2 linked regions of the Homo sapiens genome follow. The protein of the gene in region 1 purifies or fractionates together with the protein of each later gene. This does not show direct contact. Each region holds a gene or a part of one and is shown on either strand. Other genes may lie near its edges.

Region 1 (4,168 bases):
CCCTGGCCCCGCGCGCGCCTCGGTGCCTGCCCCCGCGCGCGTGCCGCCCCGGCCCCCCGGCCCGGATCCCAAGCTGCGCCCGCCCGCCCCGCCCCCGCCTCCGGCGTCGCCGTCGGGGGCCGCCGCCGAGGCTGTGGAGGGAGCGGCGGCAGCGCCGGCATTGGAAGCCTTACGCCGCGAGCGCCCGTCGGTGATGAAGAAGGCGTCCGCCGCGTAGCCCTCGCTGACGGCCGCGTCGCCGTTGATGTAGCCGCCCGCAGCGGTGGCCAGCTCCGGGCGCGGGGTGGGCGGCGGCGCAGACCCTGCAGCCGCCGGACCCAGCTCTCCACGCACAGCTGCTGCGTACATGGGCTCCGGCGACGGCCCTTTGAGCAGCGCAGCCTCGGCGTCGCCATCGTAGACGGACGAGGGCCCCACGTAGTCGCTGAGGTACCCTGCGGGCGGAGGCGGACGGACAGCGGGAAGGGAATGGGGCGGCGGCAGGACACACACGGGGGATGGGGGGGCGGGAGACAGCAGACGCGGACCGGGAGACCCGGGTCCGGGAGAGAGGCGAACAGGGAGGAGGACAAAGGAGAGGAGGCCGAGGGACCGCCGGGCAGGGAGGATGGAGACAGCAGGGAGGGGAAGAGAGGGGAGGAGAGGATGAGACAGGGCCGGGCCACGCTCCGCCCCCGCCGCCCCACCCTCGCAGAGAGGAGGAGAGAGGCGCGTCTTCGGGCGCGGCTGCCCCCCTTCCGCGGAGCCTCAAGGTCAGGGGGGAGGGGCGGCGCTTCCCTCTCCCTCCTCCCCCACCCACCCTCCCCTCCCCCTCGGGTTCTCCCCACTTCAGCAGTTTTCCCTGATTATGCAACACACTGCAGACCCGCGGCGCACAAAGCCAGGACTGCCGGCCCAGGGACCCCGTCTGTCCCACCTCTCCGGGGTCCTGGCCGGCTCTCCCTCTGGCCTGCAGAACGTGCGCTCCATTTTGATGTTGACCCCCTCTGGCCTTCTGGTTCCTCCAACAAGCCCTGAAGACGTCTCCCTCCCCCAGTTCCCTCCGGCCTCACCAGCACCTCCCTCAGCTCTCCGGCCACCCACTGGACTTGACCCTGCCCTCCCTGCTCCTCCATGCACTCTGCTTCTCCTCCGAACTCCCTCTCACCATCCTGCACCCTTGGGTCCTACCCTGTTCAACATTGCCCTCTCCTGCTCACACCCTAACCCCTTTCAGGGCCTTCCCAAGCCCCTGAACTGTGCAGAGAGGGCCAGGGCGTCCACTTTCACAGGGACGAGCTGCAGGAGGGCAGCATCACTTATACCGGTAGCTGCAGTTGCTCCCCAGGCACAAGATGGATCTCATAACCTCAAAGTCACAAATGCACGCCCCTCGCGACGCTCTGCCTCCTTCAGGGCTACACCCAGTCTCCCAGCATGATCAGCCCTTGTGTGCCCTCACAGGGTGGGCTGCACACTGATGTGCCGAACTCACCACCTCCTCACTCACGCAGGGTCACACATGCAGTCACCCCGGACACACTCTCAAGTCACATGGTGCACAGCGGCCTCAGAGTCACATGGTCCCATGTAGTGGCACACAGGCAAGCACACACACACACAGGGTCACACACAAGCGCACACGGTCACATGGCCACACACAGTCACATGGACCCACACAGGCTCACACTCCTGCAGGTCACACTTGCTCTGCCACCCCATGCTGCTGGCACTCCTGTCCCCCTCTCCTGCATGCTGACAGTTGTCCTTGAACTTGGGCACCCTTACACAAAGAGCCTCCCCCTGCCTCCCACACCTTGGGCGTCCCTTGCTCACAGCCTCCTCCCTGCTTCCTCTCCCTGACCCAGGCTTCAGGGAAGAGACTGCTGCTGCCTCTGCTGGCCCTCTGCTCTGACAGGTGGGCGGCCCTGTTGGACCCCCTGCCTACTCCCTGGAGCTCCCTGCATTCCCCAGCTAACCCTAGCAGGTGTCCTGGTGCAGTCAAGGAAGAGGAGAGGGTGGCGAGGCGGCCCTGGTCTCTTGAGTGTAGGTCTGTGTGTGCCGGCATGGCTGGGTCCCGTCATGGCAGCGCCCATGCGGCTGTGTCTGTCCCAGCATGGGTCAGGATGTGGGTCCATGTGTGCGTTTGGGTACCTCAGTTCCTGATCCTCTTCCCCACCCTCTGTCCAACGTCGACACTCTCCCTGCCCAGCCTTGGCCTCTGTGTTCCCCTTCCTCCCCTCTACCGTCCAGGCTCCAGCCACAGACTCTTGCCGTTTCTGGTTCCCTTCAGTCTGTTTCCCCGGGCCCTGCCCTCCGCCCCCACACTCTGGCCCTCCACCGCTTCCAGCAAAGCCCCAGGCCCCGCGCCCTGGTCTCAGACCAGCGCTCACCTTTATCGTGCAGTGGCGCGCCGAGGTCGCTGCGGGCGCGTCCGTAGGCGCTCTCCAGGTCGGCCGAAGAGAACGCGTCAAGTTTGACCTTCTTGACCAGGAAGGACCTGGGCATGATTCCTGCGGGGCTCCGGCGCTGTGGGCCTGCGGAGCCGGGGCTTGGGGGGGCTGCGGCGGCAGGGCCCCGTCACCATCCGAGGAGCGGCGGAGGCAGCGCGGGTCCCCACTCTGGCCTTTGGATGCTGCCGCGCGAGTGGTGTCCTCTCTCCTTGCTGCCCTGCGTCTCCTCCGTTGCCCCTCCGGATCCCTCTTCTTCCTCCTTCCTTCAATCCTTCCTTCCTTCCTTCAATCCTTCCTTCCTTCTCTCCTCTTCTCTCCTCTCCTCTTCCTTCCTTCCCTCCTCTGGTCCCGGCTTCCCAGCCCGCAGTGCCGCCCCTGGACAGGCGGGGGAGGAGGCTGGGGGGGCGGAGAGGGGGGGAGCGGCTCCGTCCCGGGCCTGGAGGCTGCGAGTGGGTGCAGGGCTGGCCCGGCTCGGTGGCCCCCTTCCCCTCCCCCCCCCCGCCGCCGCGGCGGAGCCTCAGTCAGCGGCCCCCCATGCCCCCGGGGGCGGCGGCGCCGGGCCCGGAGAACGCGGTGGCAGCGGCAGCGCCGGCAGCTTCAGCACCGCGGCCAGCGCCGGCCTGGGCAGCACCGCGGCCAGCGCCCGGGCGCGCTCAACCGGCGCGGGCGGAGAGGGGCGGTCCGCGGGGGTTTGGCCGCCGGGCAGGGGTCCTCGGCGGGGGTCTCTGGGAGGCTTGCTTTATTGTTCTGCAGCCGGAGCGAGCGGCAGTGGCGACGGCGGCGGCGGCGGCGGCGGCGGCGGCGGGCGGGGGGCGGGGGTCCTGGGGGGAGGGGTGCGCAGGGAGGGCGGGCCGAGGGAGGGAGGGAGGGAGGGACAGGGGCTCCGGGGGCGGGGCTCGGCGCTCGGACTGCTCCTGGGCCCGGCCTCCAGAGCCCGCAGCCGCCTCTGCCTGCGGCCCGGCCCAGCCTCTGGCTTTTAAAGCCCAGGAGCTGGGGGAGGGGGAGGGAGGTGGGGGAGAGGCCGGCGGAAATGGCTGCGCTGGGCCGAGCCCCGGCCTGGGTCTCCTGGGAGGGGTCCCGGGGATGCCTCAGCCTGCGCGAGTGGGGAATTCCCCCGCGCGGCTCGGGGAACCGCGGCCCGGCAGCCAGCAGCATTGTCGGGCGTGTGGGGAGAAATGGAGCCAGGCCTGGGACCCAAGCGCCCCGGACTCGGGGTCTTGTGGGGAGGAACGTAGGGAGGACCCCAGTCCCGCCTGCCTCGCTCGGGGCCTGGGGCGCGGGATCTGCGGGGGCGGGCGGGGGAGGCGGGAGCCGAAGGAGCAAGTGCTGAGGCAGCGAAAGCGCAGCGCGCGCCCTGTGCCGCAGTGGCTCCCGCCGCTCGGTCACCCCGGCTGACCCCGTGCACGCTGGAGGGGCCTACCCGCCCCCGCCTCTCTCCCCCCGGGCGGGTGTGCGGCGCAGCGGCGTCGCTGCGAGCCGGGTGTGGAGCTGGAGAGGGGCTGCCACGACCCTGCTCCAGAAATTCTGCTGCTTTGGGGGTTTTCCGCCCTTCCGCGCGGCTGCAGCTCCCCACGGCAGCCCCGCAACCAGGCGGATAACCCTTTCCTCGGCCGCCCGCCCAGCGTTTGCAGCCCCCATGACGTCAGGCTCAGCGGCCAATGGCGGGGCGCCGGGCGCGGGGGCTCCGGGGCTCCGGGCCGCACAATGGCCGCGCGCGGGTGCCTCTGTCCCCAATT
Region 2 (3,500 bases), on another chromosome or scaffold:
ATATTTAATGGGGATGAATGAATGAACTAATGAACAAATGCCATATGCTCTCCCTTCCACACAAGCCTTGCCCCAGCTGTATCCTTGGCCGGACCATCCTCTCCTCATCTATCCTCTTCCTCTTCCACCCAGCACTTTGCTATTTCCACTCATCCTGAGAGTCTTGGCTTAGAAACACCCTCCACCAGGAAGCCTAATCTAAGCCTTCAGTTTGAGGCCGGGGCTCCTTCCTCCAATGCTCATGGCCCCCCAAGGGCCCTCCACAGGACTGACCACCCATCATCTCGGCTCTAACCGCCTGCCATGGCAGTCAGTGAGCCAGCCCCCAGTGTGCAGCGGAGGGGGGTGGGGGCCGGAAGTGTCAATGACTAAAGTGCCTGCTAAACTAGGATGTGATGTGCCCTCCCTGACGCGGCAGCTGAGCAACTTCTGGGTACGCACCAGCCGGCAGGCCACCTGCAGCACAGACCTCTCTGACAGCACATGCTTTGGGCTGACATCCAGGGCCGACTGAAGGCTCCTCCCCAGGCTGGGTAACACCAAGAACCTGGAAGACACAAGCACCCCAGGAGGTGGGAGATGAACAGGGGAGAGAGGAGTACCGGCCGCCAAGGATGGACTGTTGCGTGGGCTGCAAGGTCCTGGTCCCAGGTGAGATCAAAGGTTCTGACTGGCTGGGCAGCAAACTAGGTCAAAACTACGAGAAGGCAGGAAGCAAAGACCTGGCCCACGGCTTCGGGGTCCCAGCCATGCCTGGAGTCACAACAGGAAGAAGAGGAAAGAGGCCGGTGAGGCAAGCAGTGAGCAGAGCAGCTCACCTGTATTTGTCCTGGTGAACACCGAAACCCATGCAGGTAGGGATGGCCAGCAGTGGGGTCGAGTACAGCTTCTTCCACTTGTTGACTGCGGAAAGCAGGGGCTTGAGGTTAGAACCCACCCAGTCCCAAGCCCATGGCAGTAAGAGCTAGTTCTCAGAGAAGAAGCACAGAGTGCCCAGACCGCCTCCAAGTCTCCTTGTTGGAGGTGACAACATTGTGGGTGGGTGATGGTGGGAAGGGGCTGGTGACAGGGCAGGCATGGGTGACCATGAATGTCTGTGATCCAGGTCTGCAGGTGATGGGGTGATCATGGTGGCTCTGGAGGAAGCATATACAAGTCTGGAGTGCAGAGATGGGATAATGACAGGGTTACTTCCGAATTCACACATAGAGCTAACAAGATCAACACGTGTCTAACCTAGCCATGGCATCACCGGAATGTGCCTCTGCCTGTCTTCCAGATCTCAGTGGGGTGGACCAGAACCAATGGCGAGCTGATGCTAGTTTAACAGCTGGCTATCCAGGGAAGGCAGTCCTGATGGGTAGCATTTGCTAATTTCTTTTTTCTTTTTTTTTGAGACGAAGTTTTGCTCTGTCGCCCTGGATGGAATACAATGGCGCGATCTTGGCTCACTGCAACCTCCGCTTCCTGATTTTAAGCAATTCTCCTGCCTCAGCCTTCCATGTAGCTGGGATTGCAGGCTTCTGCCACCAGGCCCAGCTAATTTTTTTTTATTTTTTATTTTTTTTGAGATGGAGTCTTCGTCTGTCACCAGGCTGGAGAGCAGTGGCGTGATCTCGGCTCACTGCAACCTCCACCTCCCAGGTTCAAGTGATTCTCCTGCCTCAGCCTCCCGAGTAGCTGGGATCACAGGCACGTGCCACCACATCCAACTAATTTTTGTATTTTTAGTAGAGATGGAGTTTCACCATGTTGGCCAGGATGGTCTCAATCTCCTGACCTCATGATCCGCCCGCCTCGGCCTCCCAAAGTGCTGAGATTACAGGCATCAGCCACCACGCCCGGCCTTTTTTTTTTGTATTTTCAATAGAGATGGGTTTTGCCATGTTGGCCAGGCTGGTCTCGAACTCCTGACCTCAGGTGATCCACCGGCCTCCGCCTCCAAAAGTGTGGGAATTACAGGCATGAGCCACCGCGCCCGACTGCATTTGCTAATTTCTGCAGTGTAAATAAATACTCCTGCTATGGCCAACTCCAAGCTACCAACATGACATGACTGGAGGTGGGGTGGGAGAGATATACAGGGGAGGCCATCATGCAGCATTCTCACCACACAGAGACAATAGTGCACACAACCTCACTGGCAGAGATCACAGGACATGTAGGAAATAATTAGGAAGTGATGAATTTCTGAGGGTTCATTACCTTTGTTTTGAATATAATTTATTTGTAAAATTATGTAACTTATTTTATATATTTTTTGAGACTAAGTCTCACTCTATCGCCCAGACTGGAGTGCAGTGGCATGATCTCGGCTCACTGCAACCTCCACCTTCCAGGTTCGAGTGATTCTCCCACCTCAGCCTCCCATGTAGCTGAGATTACAGGCACACGCCACCACGCCTGGCTAATTTTTGTATTTTTAGTAGAGATGGGGTTTCACCATGTTGGCCAGGCTACTCTTGAACTCCTGACCTCAGGTGATCTACCCACCTCAGCCTGCCAAAGTGCTAAGACTACAGGCATGAGCCACCACGCCTGGCCTATATAATTTAATTGCTAGTACTGGCTGTCTGTAACAACCAGCTTGCCATCTTCCTAAAAATTTATTTTTATTTTTATTTTTTTTGGAGACAGGGTCTGGCTCTGTTGCTCAGGCTGGAGTGCAGTGGCACAATCACAGCTCACTGCAATCTCTGTCTCCCGGGCTCAAGCAATTCTCTCAGCTCAGCCTCTTGAGTAGCTGGGATCACAGGTGCATGCCATTACACCCGGCTAATTTTTGTATTTTCAGTAGAGATAAGGTTTTGCCACATTGCCCAGGATGGTCTCAAACTCCTGGCCTCAAGTGATCTGCCCACCTCAGCCTCCCAAAGTGCTGGGAGTATAGGCGTCAACCCACGCCCAGCCTGAAAATTTAATACTTGGCTTCCAAGAGCTGGTGTGAGCCAGTCACAACACACACTGAGGCCTGAGGGGTCACAGGAGTCAGGTTATGGACACAGATGGGAGCAAACCTGGGCCTTTAATCTAAGCCCACCCTTCTCATGCCTGCAGGTAGAAGTCAAGTGCTGTGACCAAGTTGGCGCCCCCCTCACTCTCCCCTCCTTGCCCAGTTCCCTGTCAGGTACCTTGCAGAGGCTTGGCGGCCCGCTGGAAGAAGTTCTGCTCATTGAACAAGCGCCCATCCTTGGCATCCTGGTGGGGGACAGGAGGGGCAGAAGGCTGTCACACTGAAGTCTCAGATAAGGGCCCCCAGTCCCCACTGGCAATTTGTTACTCCCTCAATGACCAGGCTCCTCATCAAGTCCCCACATCGGAGCCAAATTCCTCAGGTACTGCACACAAACACACATCAGAGACTGCGAGCTACCTTGCTGTACCCAGGTTCCTTTTCTTTCTCTTATGGTAAGAGCCACAGTGTTCCCTAGAATGTAGCCTTCAGCATAAAAACTACGTTTCCCAGCTTCCTTTGCAGTGAGGACTGACCACATGACCAA

The links. Proteins that work in one complex are often made in the same cells at the same time.
Region 2: the proteins of SCRT1 (region 1) and VRK3 purify together in Homo sapiens (affinity purification with mass spectrometry; one large-scale study listed by BioGRID and IntAct). This does not show direct contact.

What each region holds. Positions count from the first base shown.
Region 1 is NC_000008.11:144,333,683-144,337,850, forward strand, and holds the start of SCRT1 (transcriptional repressor scratch 1), read right to left. Parts: upstream 2,801-4,168; 5' UTR 2,488-2,800; coding exon 2,373-2,487; intron 1,510-2,372; exon of another isoform or gene 1,305-1,509; intron 435-1,304; coding exon 1-434. UniProt on the Homo sapiens protein: Transcriptional repressor that binds E-box motif CAGGTG. Can modulate the action of basic helix-loop-helix (bHLH) transcription factors, critical for neuronal differentiation.
Region 2 is NC_000019.10:49,994,373-49,997,872, forward strand, and holds part of VRK3 (serine/threonine-protein kinase VRK3), read right to left. Parts: intron 3,199-3,500; coding exon 3,132-3,198; intron 904-3,131; coding exon 819-903; intron 548-818; coding exon 442-547; intron 1-441. UniProt on the Homo sapiens protein: Plays a role in the regulation of the cell cycle by phosphorylating the nuclear envelope protein barrier-to-autointegration factor/BAF that is required for disassembly and reassembly, respectively, of the nuclear envelope during mitosis.